Homo sapiens: one gene and its partner. The protein of the gene in region 1 purifies or fractionates together with the protein of each later gene. This does not show direct contact. Each region holds a gene or a part of one and is shown on either strand. Other genes may lie near its edges.

Region 1 (5,795 bases):
AACTTCAGAAAAGGAGTTGTATGGCAATCAATCTTAGATATCAACCAAATTTTGGGAGATCAGGGATTCTCTGCAGGGGAGAAGCTCCCTAACCTCAGCACATTATCCTATTGGTTTGGGCAATAAAGATAGCCCAGGTTGGTATCAAGCAATAATGAGATTTATCAAAGGTCAGGACCACCTTTGTAATCTCCTTCTCTGTGTTTTTTTTTTTTTTTTTTTTTTTTTTGAGACGGAGTCTCACTGTCTCTCCCGGGCTGCAGTGCAGTGGCACGACCTTGGCTCACTGCAAGCTCCACCTCCCAGGTTCACACCATTCTCCTGCCTCAGCCTCCCAAGTAGCTGGGACTACAGGCACCCGCCACCATGCCCAGCTAATTTTTTGTATTTTTTGTAGAGACGGGGTTTCACCGTGTTAGCCAGGATGGTCTTGATCTCCTGACCTTGTGATCCATCCATCTCAGCCTCCGAAAGTGCTGGGATTACAGGCGTGAACCACCGCGCCCAGCCCTCTGTCTTTTTTTTTTTTTAAATCTTTATTGGTATAGTCTGTTTTGTCAGAAACTAGGAGTGCAACACCTGCTTTTTTCTGTTTTCCATTTCCTTGAAATATTTTTCTCCATTCCTTTATTTTGAGCCTATGTATGGCACTGCATGTGAGATGGGTTTCTTGAAGACGGCATACTCCAATGGGTCTTGGTTCTTTATCCAGCTTGCCCCCTGTGTCTTTCAATTGGAGCATTTAGCCCATTTCCATTTAAGGTTAGTAATGGTATGTGTGGATTTGATCCTGTCATCATGCTGTCAGCTGGCTCTTTTGCAGACTTATGTATGTGGTTGGTTTTTAGCATCACTTGTCTGTGTACTTCAGTGTGTTTTTGTAGTGGCTGGTGGTGGTCTTTTCTTTCCATATTTAGTGCTTCCTTCAGGAGCTCTTGTAAGGTAGGTCTGGTGATAACGAATTCCCTCAGCATTTGCTTGTCTGAAAACGATCTTGTTTCTCCTTCACTTATGATGCTTAATTTTGCTGGACATGAAATTCTGGGTTGAAATTTCTTTTCTTTGAAATGTTGAATGTCTTTTCTGGCTTGTACAGTTTCAGTTGAGAGGTCTGCTAAGTCTGATGGAATTCCCTTTGCAGGTGATGTTGCCTTTCTCCCTAGCTGCCTTTAACATTTTTTCTTTTATTTTGACCTCAGAGAATCTGATGATTATGTGTCTTGGGGATGATCTTCTCATGGCATATCTTACTGAGGTTCTCTGGATTTCCTGAAGTTGAATGTTGGCCTGTCTGGCTAGGTTGGGGACATTCTCATGAATGATATTCTGAAATGTGTTTTCCAAGTTGGTTCCATTCTCCTCATCTCTTTCAGGTACATTAATCAGTCATAGATTTGGTCGTTTATATAATCCCATATTTCTCGGATGTTTTGTTCATTCCCTTTCATTCTTTTTTCCCCCATTCTTGTTTGCCTGTTTTATTTCAGAAAGCCAGTTTTCAAGCTCTGGGATTCTTTCCTCTTCTTGGTCTATTCTGTTAGATGGTCTTGCACATGAGATGGAGCTGGTCTGACCTCAGCCCTCCCTAGTCTGCTTGCCTCTCCCAGGACCCCAGCCTGGCCACACCTGCTTACAGGGCACTCTCAGGTGCCCACACATACTACAATAATATTCATAATGCAATCACACACAATCACCATGTGACTACATTATGAAAATTCTTCTAGTGTGATTTACAGCTCTGTCAGGTCAGTTATTTTCTTCTTTATACTCACTATTTTGTCTGTTAGTTCCTGCAATGTTTTACAATGATTTTTAGCTTCCTTGTATTGGATTACAACATACTTCTTTCACTCAATGAACTTTGTTCCTACCCATATCCTGAACTCTGCTTGTATCATTTCAGACATCTCAGCCTCAGCCCAGTTCTGAACACTTGCTGGAGAGTTGATGCAGTCATTTGGAGAAAAGAAGGTATGCTGAATTTTTGAGTTTTCAGTGTTCTTGCACAGAGTCTTTTTCTCATCTTTATGGGCTTATCCATCTTCAATCTTTGAGGTTGCTGACCTTTGGACAGGGTATTTTTCCTTTATTATATCTGATGACCTTGAGGATTTGATTGTGGTGTAAGGTGGATTCAGCCAACAGGTTTTGTTTTTGGAGGATTTTAAGGGGCCAACATGCAGCTCCCAATTCTTGGACTGTGTGCTTTAACTCTGGGGAACTTGTATTGGGCCACAACTTTGTCCTCTGGCTCCTCGAGGTTTGGAGTCCACTGCACTGAGGGGACCAAAGTGCAGCAGCTGTGGCAGAATGCTAGCAGATGCAAAAGTCCCTGCCTCCCTGTGGGCATTCACCCAGTGGTGGAGGCAAAACAGCTGGGGTGTGGGCCACGGGCCCCTGCTGACTGTGTGTGCTGTTGCACTGGAGGTAGTGCTGGTTTGGGGTGGGTGGCTGGCCAGTGAAGGTGCCTTCTCTGATCCCCCCCAAGCAACAGTGGTCACTCAGGGTATAAGAAGGTCCCTTTTCCTCTGCACAGCATTACCTCAAGGGTGAGATGCTAGCAGGGGTGGGGTTTTTGGTTCTGTGCCCACCATGGCTTCATCTTCAGTGGCAGTTGGTGTGGGTTGGGGTGTGTGCTGCATTCCCATATGCTGTTAGGGCAAGTACAACAAAACCCACCTGTGTAAACACACACAGCAAAGTGATGTAGGAAGTTTCCATATAAAGGGCTGCAGTATGGAATGGTAATGTGCAGGCTAGTGCGTGGCTGTAGAGGTCACCTTGCTGCAGCTCTCCACTGATCAGGCACGGTCCGCTTGTACAGAAGCTATGGTGTGGGCACCCGAAAGTGCCCTCTAAGCAGGTGTGGCCTGGCTGGGGTCCTGGGAGAGGCAAGCAGACTAAGGGGTGCTGAGGTCAGACCAGCCCCATCTCATGTGCAAGACTGCCCAGCACAGATCAGGTCTCAGAGGAGAACTCTCTCAAAAGTGAATCCTCAGCACAGCACAACTGCTCTACACAAACGTGGCCAGACTTCTTTTTTAAGCAAGTCCCCTTTTTTACGAAGAGAACTCTTAGACCTGATCTGTGCTGGGCAATCTTGCACGTGAGATGGGGCTGGTCTGACCTCAGCACTCCTAAAGTGCTGGGATAAAGTGTCTCATAAGAGCAAGTGGAGCCTAGAGACATAGCTGTCCCTGCCCTCCAGGCTCCACATCAGCTGACTTGCTGCTCCACTACTTTCCTTGTCTCCTGGGGGCTCCACCCCAGAGAGGTGTAAGTTAGCAGTTACTTAATGTAATCACCCCAGGATGGAGGGTCTGTGTTGTGGGCCCAAGCCACGGTTCCTTGTCTGGTGATGAGCAGTAAGGGGTGTGTTGTACCTGTGGAAGATGGACTGACTTGTTCCTTGTGTCAACTGCAGCTTGTTGGAGGTGTCAATATGGCACTTAGGGTCTTTGCTCCCTTGATATTCTGAGGGTAGCAAGGGCAGTTCCACTGCAGAGGCAGTGGCAGAGAGGATTTCTGTTGCTCCTGGAAGCTCTGTCCAGGGAGTTGCTGAGTTGCTACTGGCTTGAAAGCTCAAGTGGGGGGCTGGCTGGAGACCCAGGCCAGGAAGACCTGCCCATCGAGGAGATATGGAAATGGGCACCCACATAACAGTCTGGCCACTTTTCTGTGGGGCTGCCGTGGTATGCTGGGGGTCCACTCCAGTCGCCAATTGCCTCGTATTTTCCAGTGGCTGAAGGTATCAGCAGTGAAGCCTGAGAAAAAGCAAAGACGATAGCCTGCCCTTCCCTCTGGGAGCTCTGTACCTCTGAGGTATGAACCTGTTGCCAATCTCAACACACCTGTAGGATGTGACTGGAAGCAAGTTGAGAAGTCTTGCCTAGTAAGGAGGAACAGGAATAGGGACTTGTTTAAAAAAGAAGTCTGGCCACGTTTTTGTAGAGTGGCTATGCTGTGTGGGGGGTTCACTTCAGCCCCTGGTCTCCTCAGACACTCTGAAACTCTAAGACTGAACTGGCTGAGTCATCCAAACAGCAAAGATGACAGTCTGGTCCTCCCCCTGGGAGCTCTGACTCAGGAGGCCTGAAACCTCTGTGAGCCAGAGAACAGCAGTGAAGGTGGCTGGAGACCCTGGTTGAAAGGCTCCACCCAGTGATTAGAAATGTGGTTGGGGACTGGCTTAAACAAGAATCTGGCCACGTTTTCGCAGGGTGGCTGTTCTGTGCTGAGGTACCACTTCCACCCCTGGTCAGCTTGGGCTCTCCAAAGCCCACAGGCCAGAAGGGCTAGTTGCCCAAACAACAAAGGTCATGGCCCACCCCTCTCTCTGGGAACTCTGTCCCAGGAAGGTTTCAAATCTCCATTGGCCAGGGAACACTGGTGGGTGTAGCTGGAGGCCTCAGGTGGGAGATCCTGTCCAGTGACGAGGAACAGGATCAGAGGCCTGCTTACAGAAGCATTCTGGACATGATTTGGTAAAGCAGCTGTGCTATGCCACAGGATCTCTTCTGCCCCTGGTGGGTTTGTACTCTCCAAAGCCCGCACGCTGGAATCGCTAAGTTGCCCAAACAGGAAAGATGGTGGCCTGCCTCATCTTTTCTCTCAGAATTTATCCTGTGTGATGGAGCTTAATTTTTAGGTTGTTAATTTTACTGTCAGCGTTAGAGTTGTTCAGAAAGAATCTCACTGTTATCTTTTAGGTGAGATATATGAGAATTCATTTTCTCCTGTAAATAAACCTGTTCATGTTTGTTCTCTGGAAAGAAGTCCCTTTCAGCTATCTGACTTTGATCACAATCATGTAGAGCAGTAGTCAGTCTACAATGACATGATTGAATTTCCATTTCCAGTGTTTCCTAGCTGTGTCTTACATTCTCCAGTTCAGAACTGAGCATTCTCAGTTGTCAAAATCCTAAGCTGTCCACTGTACTTAAATATTGGTTTTCGTTAATGCTTCTTCATTCAATTGCATAGCCCTTAGAAGTTTATCAGTCTTTTCTTTCACACTTTCAATTTCCTCCAAAATTTTATTTTCCCTTAGCTGGTTCTGATGTTTTGTTTCATCTAGTTCCAGTCTCCAGAAATTAGCATGGCAATTTCTTCCTGCAACATGCTGTTTTCACGCAAGAGATCTTCTTCTTTCTTATGACTAAGAGAAAGCTAAGTAAACAAAGGGAACTTTTAGTTAGCACTCAATAGAATGACATATCATGATTTCTTCTAAAATTAAAGAATGACATTTATATTTGTATAATGAAATAATTCCCATAGTGGATATTTAACTGGAAAAAAGTTGGACAAAACTTCAAATCTAAAAGAGTGTAAATTCCAAAAAGTTGAAATATTTATCTAAAGACCATGAAAAATAAATCACTAGAGGATTTTTAAGAATTTCAGAATTGGAAAAGCCTTTCTCTGAATTACAAAAAACCCAGAGGCATAAAATAGAAGATTAATACATTTGGCTACATTTTTTAAATTGGGTTTACACTCTGATATCTAACCTATAAACCACACCATCATAAGAGCCTTAGCTATGCGTATATTAGGACAGAAGCAATTCCTCAAAGTTCTTTAAGTTCCTTTTTCTGAGGAATGTTTTATCAATATACTGCTGTCCTAATATTTTTACAGTCAGTTGTAAGCATTACATTTATTCATAACTGTTAAATCTAAGCATTGTACCCTTCTACAATGTACACATCTGCGTCTAAGCATTGCACTTCTACCTACAACACTCAACTCATTTAGGATCACGATTCTTAAAAGGAGAGGTCAAAAAA
Region 2 (7,033 bases), on another chromosome or scaffold:
CTCAAAAAACTGTGGTCCAATGGTCAAGAGATAAGGATTTTTATTACTAATTCTGTTAGCTAGCTGGTTGATTCTGAGCAAAACAATCTTAGTTTCTTTGATCTTCTACTTCATTAGATATAAAAGAGTTTTATTAGATGGTCTCTAAGATCCCTTCTAGCCTGGAAATTTCAAGCTTAAGAGAAAAACAAACTAAGAATTGAAAATAATTCCTCTAGGGGACAGGGAAGAAAATATTTTTATTATAAACTCTTTAGTCATATTTGATTGCTCTTGCTGTGGTGTGTATATTTTTGAAATCCGGCACTTGTTACAGAATGAATTTGATCAGCTATTTTTCTTATCTCAGTGTCCAACTTAGTCTATAAGTACACAATGCTTATTTACAATTTTTAGTTCTGTATATTCTTTAAAAGATCTCTCATAAGCTCATATGCATATCTAAAAATTTTATCACCACTTTGGAAATATATTATTTCCAAAATATCCCTGAGATTTAATAGCATATGTATATAAAAATGACTTAAAACCCATTCTGTCTATGCAAAATAATCCATTAAAGAAGTTATTAAGTCTTTCAGTAATAGAGTATTATGTGGGTTATTCATATAATCAGAATAAATCCACAAAGTCTTGTAACTCTGTAGTTTAAAATGAAGTGGCTTTAATTGTTCATGGTATTTCTCAAGTGTCTAAATGGAGAGAATGAAACTTTATTCAATCCAGATGTTTTTTGACTGGTAATCTTTTGCAGTCTTTAGTCCTGGCTAGTATCTTAAGATTTGGTTTTATAGTCTTTTATATCCTACTACCTTCTTCACCCAAATTTTTAAAGTAAAATAAGCAGGAAAGATAAGTTGAAGCTAGTAGAAAAATGCATAAAAAACATGCTTTCGAGGTAAGTCATAAATTAGGATCTGAGCTATTTAGCAGGTAATGCAGTGGTGAAGATATGAGCTATATGATTCACAGTTTCAAAGGTAAATACTATTTTCTTTCTTAGGGTAGTAATTGTAGGTGGCATTTTATCTTTCAATTATTTCTTTTTCTTAGGAAGGAGGCTGAACTGGAGAAAAGTAGTGCTGCTCATACCCAGGCCACCCTGCTTTTGCAGGAAAAGTATGACAGTATGGTGCAAAGCCTTGAAGATGTTACTGCTCAATTTGAAAGGTATTTTTCTTGGGAGCCTGCACTCTTAAATATGATGTGTGCAGAAAGGGGTGTTTACCCCAGGAAATATGTGAGCAAAGCAGTCACACAAAGGATGATTCATACTAGTTTAAATTCCATAATCACCAACCGTAAGTGGGCATTTAGCATTATCTGGTAATCTTATTGTATTTATATAATTCCCCTTTATAATTTATAGAAATTCCCCTTTCTCACCATCCACTTCAACTTTTATGTGCTGAGCCAGGTGCGGCAGCATATGCCTGTAGTCCTAGCCACTGCATAAGCTGAGGTGGGAGGATCAAGTCATGTACTTAGAAGCATTTGGTGCTTCTGCCCTACTCTCTTGATGTTATCATTTTCATAAAGAATTCAGAAGTTTTTATCTCTTGCTAAACCTATAAAGAGACCCACATTTATACTCATCCTATCTTCCCACCTATTACAGATGAAATGTCCTAGTCTTTTAATCTTCAGTGACCTCATTCTATCATTTTGTTTTCTCATAATTTGAAACCTTTTTACTGGAATTTTTCCAATCAATATTAAAACATGTTAATGTACATCTGTCTGTAAAATATATTAATTAGCTGGCCACTGTGGCTCATACCAGTAATCCCAGTGCTTTGGGAGACCAAGGCAGGAGGATTGCTTGAGGTCAGGAGTTTGAGACCAGCCTGGGCAATAGAGTAAGACCTTGTTTCTACAAAAAAAAATATTAAGAATTAGCCAGGCATTGTGGCACATGCTACTTGGGAGGCTGAGGGCAGGAGGATCACCTGAGCCCAGGAGTTCCAGGCTGCACTGAGCTAAGATCACACCACTGCGCTCCAGCCTGGGTGACAGAGCAAGACTGTCTCAAAAACAAACGAAAAATAAATAAAATACATAAGTTGTTTTAAATACTTCTCTGACCCTAACTTCCTTTTGTAGCTGTCTCACACCACCAGTCATTCCCTTCTTAACCCCAAATTCTACTCCTTTTCAGTCCTTTTCCTTCTCCTCCTTTTTCTTCTCTTGACAGAGAAGATTGTCTCTATATCCACTTCCTCACCTCCCATGCCTTCTACTTATTTTCTCCTTAAATAAAAAGTTTATTTTGGGTGGAACTACAAATTACAAAGGCCAATATAATGAATACCTATATATTAATGTTAACATTTTTATTTATCACATTTACTTTAGCTCATTTTGGGGGAGAGTTTCCTTTCTTTTATTTAATAAATACAAAAGAATGCATAACATGTACATAAACTGTAGAGCTTGAAGATAAAACTGACATGCATGAACCTATAAAAGACAACCAGTAAGCCAAAAGATTTTCAACAACTTAGTATCCATATGTAAGTTCCTCTGCCATCCCATGAAAATGGGACAGATAACACTGTCCTGAAGTCTACACTAATTATTTCCTTGCTTTTTCCCCCCTGTGTATTATAATTTTATGACACGTATATCCATACAAATAATGCATTATGTAATTTTCCTTCTCCTTGAACTTTACCAAAAAATGTCATCATAGTATATGCCGTTTCCTGGGACTTATTTTTTCATTCTGCATTATGTGTGTTTTCAGGATTGAATTGTGTTGTCTGAGGCTATGGTTTGTTGATAGTCACTGCTATGAGTATTTTATTGTATGAATATACCACAACTTATTTATTCATTCTTTGGACTTTGAGTTGTTTCCCATTTGGTTAGTTATTATTAGTTATTTTGTGACTATAAGAATACATGTATGTAAGAATTTCTCTAAAGCCAAAGGTATATGAATGTTCAACTCTAAAACTTAATATCAAATCACTTTCCAATGTGGGAGTAAGAATCTACACTCCCACTAGTGTTGTATAAGTTTCCATTTATCTTCTTTGCCAAAGCTTGTTAGACTTCTTAAACTTTGCCAGTGTACTTAGTGTAAAATGGCTTCTTATTGTGGATAATTCATCTTTCCTTTTCCATAAAATGCTTGTTTATGACTTTTGTTTATTTGTCTATAGGGTTATCATCTTTTCCTCATTGATTTGTAGAGGTTTTCTTTATCAGCCATATGGGTTACAGGTATCTTCTGCCAGTTTAGCTTATTTTTTTATTTTCTTTTTGGTTTCTTCTGATGAGTGGAAATTCTTGATTTCAATATGGTTAAAATATTTATCTGTATGTGGGTACTTTTGCTTCTCATTTAAGAACTTCTTTCTATCTCAAGGTGTAAAGATATTCAACCAGTTTTCTTCTAAAAGTCTTAAAATTTCACTTTCCATTTTTCCACCTAGAACTGATTTCTGTGTGTGTAGCAATATAGGGATCAAATTCATTTTTTGTTTTCCCTATGGACAACCAACTGCCTAGTTTAATTTAATTCATTAAATTGTACCTTGTTTCCCCAGTGATCTGTTCCCACATGTGATACATTATGACAGACACATAGATAAATAATTTATAAGTGTATATGTTTTATTTATAATTTTTATTGTATCAGAACATATAAATCATATAAATATATGTAAATTTTATATATATATATTTATTGCTAATATCAATCCTGTAAAGGAATTTCCCTTCTCGTTAGTTTGAAGAATAGTGCTTCAGGGGGTTTTTATCTATTCTGTGATTTTAGTCACTATCCATATACTCGTGGCATTAAAATTTATTTCATCAAACCAGACCTTTCTTTACAGCTCCATATTCACATATCCAGTTACCCACTTGACATCTTCAAGTAGATATCACACTGTCTTTTAATATTAACCTGTCCAAACCAACTCTTGATCCTTCCATTGCTTTCTACCCCTAGTCTCTCATTGTTTTTATTGTAATCAGTGACATCATCTTCCCAGCTTTTCATTCTGTAAATCTTAGAGTCATCCTTCATCATTCTCTCTTCCTTACCCCCAATATTCAGTCTATCTCTTGAATTTTCCTACTCTGCTTCCAAAAGAGATCTTGTGTCTTTCCATTGCCAGCTCCTTAGTCTAAGCCTCCTTTATCACTCACCTGGGCTGATAAATAATTGTTTTGGAGTTGATCCTTCAATTTTCCATTCTTTTCCCCTGCCCTAATCCATCTTCCTCATAGCTCTAGAGTGAGCTACACATTTAATTAAACACCTTTTTATTTTATTTATTTGTTTATTTTGAGTCGGAGTTTCGCTCTTGTTGCCCAGGCTGGAGTGCAATGGCACTATCTCAGGTCACTGCAACCTCCCCCTCCCAGGTTCAAGTGATTCTCCTGCCTCAGCCTCCCGAGTAGCTGAGATTACAGGTGTCCACCACCACGCTTGGCTAATTTTTTGTGTTTTTAGTAGTGATGGGGTTTCACCATGTTGGTCATGCTGGTCTCGAACTCCTGACCTCAGGTGATCCACCCGTCTCGGCCTCCCAGAGTGCTGGGATTACAGGCATGAGCCACCACGCCCAGCCTACTTGGACACCTTTAATGGTTCCCGTCTGTCCGCCAGGTAAGCCCACTGTGCCCTGCGGTGATGACCCTCATGCCACCAGCTTCTGCTCCAGCCTTTCTTACTCATTAGGCTCTAGTCTCACTTCTTATTTTTTAAATTGTGAGTAATTTTCATGCTTGGTAGTTGATTTCTTTTCCATCTCTGTATGCATACTTCCTGCACCTAGTAGGCACTTGATTTTTTTTTCTTTGAATACACAGCAGATGCCATGTAAACTCATTAGTACTTGCCTCAGAACACTGAATTCTTACCTGTGTTAAATGCATGAATACATTAAAAACTTTTTAGTTTTACTTAGAAGTATATAAAGTGTAAACTAATCAGTTATGATTGTCATACGCAATAGTTAGAAAACTACTTTGACTTTTTTTTCTTTTTAATAAGCTATAAAGCGTTAACAGCCAGTGAGATAGAAGATCTTAAGCTGGAGAACTCATCATTACAGGAAAAAGCGGCCAAGGCTGGGAAAAATGCAGAGGATGTTCAGCATCAGATTTTGGCAACTGAGAGCTCAAATCAAGAATATGTAAGGTATATAGAGCAAATAATGGCCTTAGAACCATTAAGACAATTTAATGTTGAAAGCCAGCTAGTAACTGTCCCTTGGCTTGCTTTTGGCCATCTTATACTGCAAATTAAGAATTTACTCAGTTAAAAAATGACACTTCTTGAAGAGTTCCTTGAGGTTTAAAGAAAAAAAAAGGAAAAATTAATGAAAGTGGCTATAAAATGTTTAGTGACCTCTTCTCTCTCAAACCAAAGGATGCTTCTAGATCTGCAGACCAAGTCAGCACTAAAGGAAACAGAAATTAAAGAAATCACAGTTTCTTTTCTTCAAAAAATAACTGATTTGCAGAACCAACTCAAGCAACAGGAGGAAGACTTTAGAAAACAGCTGGAAGATGAAGAAGGAAGGTAATCTATGATTAGAACCTGAGTGCCTTGTTAACTCAGTTACGATGTGATTTTTTAAATAACTATGTTTTTCTCAATTTAATTCTTCCATGCAGAAAAGCTGAAAAAGAAAATACAACAGCAGAATTAACTGAAGAAATTAACAAGTGGCGTCTCCTCTATGAAGAACTATATAATAAAACAAAACCTTTTCAGGTTTGTCAGTTAGGAGTAAACTTACTTGTGTTTATTTTAGGGACTCACTTTGTTCCCTATTATAGTGAGGACAGTGACTCGGGTTTTCTGCAAGATCATTTTGCTCTGCACTTACAGTGCCAATTTAGCTCACTATTAAAGGTTTATACATTTTATTAAATTATGCATAATTTTTTCCCACATTATTGAAGTATAATTGACAAATTTAATTGACATAATTTTTTCAATGGACCCTTTGTGGTTTAAAAAAAAACTTTGTAATGTGGAACTTAAAAGTTTGGCTCAGAGGGCTTGCCTGGTATGAGCTTTTGATAATTAACCTATTTTAATTTGTGGTATGACTTATTGCAAATACTCATTGTTTCTCAATATACTGATCTTTTAAAAGAAAAAAGAATAAATGCTGATTTTGGAACTTAGAAGTACAGTATTGGTTATAATGTGGTAATCTAACTGATACAGATAAAACTGGCCAGCTGGCTTTTTTACCTTGTTTCTTTTCCTCTGTTTTAATGATCTTTAAAATGAAAAATACAAAGTTTAAAAGATTCTCATAGAGAATCTATGGAGAGCCCTGAGAATATGTGAACATACCTTGTTTTCATTTGTGTTTTTAATTTTCTTTAGTGTTTATGGTTTATATGAAACTAGTAAGATCAAACTGTTTTAAGTCTTAACTTTATTTAAAAAATCTTTTTCAGCTACAACTAGATGCTTTTGAAGTAGAAAAACAGGCATTGTTGAATGAACATGGTGCAGCTCAGGAACAGCTAAATAAAATAAGAGATTCATATGCTAAATTATTGGGTCATCAGAATTTGAAACAAAAAATCAAGCATGTTGTGAAGTTGAAAGATGAAAATAGCCAACTCAAATCGGTTTGTAAAATGACTTTTCATTTTATTAAAGATATTGGAGTGGGGGTTATTCTAACTATAATACTTAAATAAAATGAATATCTTTGGTATCAGAAAAAAATAACTGTTTATAGAGGAAAATTGAGCTGTGATTTAGTGGATTTATTTTAGAGTGTTGACCAGATGGGCATTCAATGTTCTAAAGTTTTCTAGCTACCTTCTTAATATATTGAAAATTACTTGAGTAATTGGATGAATTCATTAAGCTTTACATATCTATTTCCATTTGCAAAACTGCAAACTCCTTGATGTAAAACCATAAAGAGAAGCAGTGTTCAAAAATATTTGGGCATTTAAATTTTTTAACATATGTATTGAGATATAATTGACAACCCATACAATCCACCCATTGAAAGTGGACAATTCAGTGTTTTTTAGT

Evidence for each region.
Region 2: the proteins of POTEC (region 1) and HMMR purify together in Homo sapiens (affinity purification with mass spectrometry; 2 studies listed by BioGRID and IntAct, with this or other methods). This does not show direct contact.

What each region holds. Positions count from the first base shown.
Region 1 is NC_000018.10:14,506,822-14,512,616, forward strand, and holds the end of POTEC (POTE ankyrin domain family member C), read right to left. Parts: intron 5,173-5,795; coding exon 5,077-5,172; 3' UTR 518-5,076; downstream 1-517.
Region 2 is NC_000005.10:163,477,631-163,484,663, forward strand, and holds part of HMMR (hyaluronan mediated motility receptor), read left to right. Parts: intron 1-1,053; coding exon 1,054-1,170; intron 1,171-4,973; exon of another isoform or gene 4,974-5,011; coding exon 5,012-5,158; exon of another isoform or gene 5,159-5,389; coding exon 5,390-5,542; exon of another isoform or gene 5,543-5,637; coding exon 5,638-5,737; intron 5,738-6,438; coding exon 6,439-6,615; intron 6,616-7,033. UniProt on the Homo sapiens protein: Receptor for hyaluronic acid (HA). Involved in cell motility. When hyaluronan binds to HMMR, the phosphorylation of a number of proteins, including PTK2/FAK1 occurs.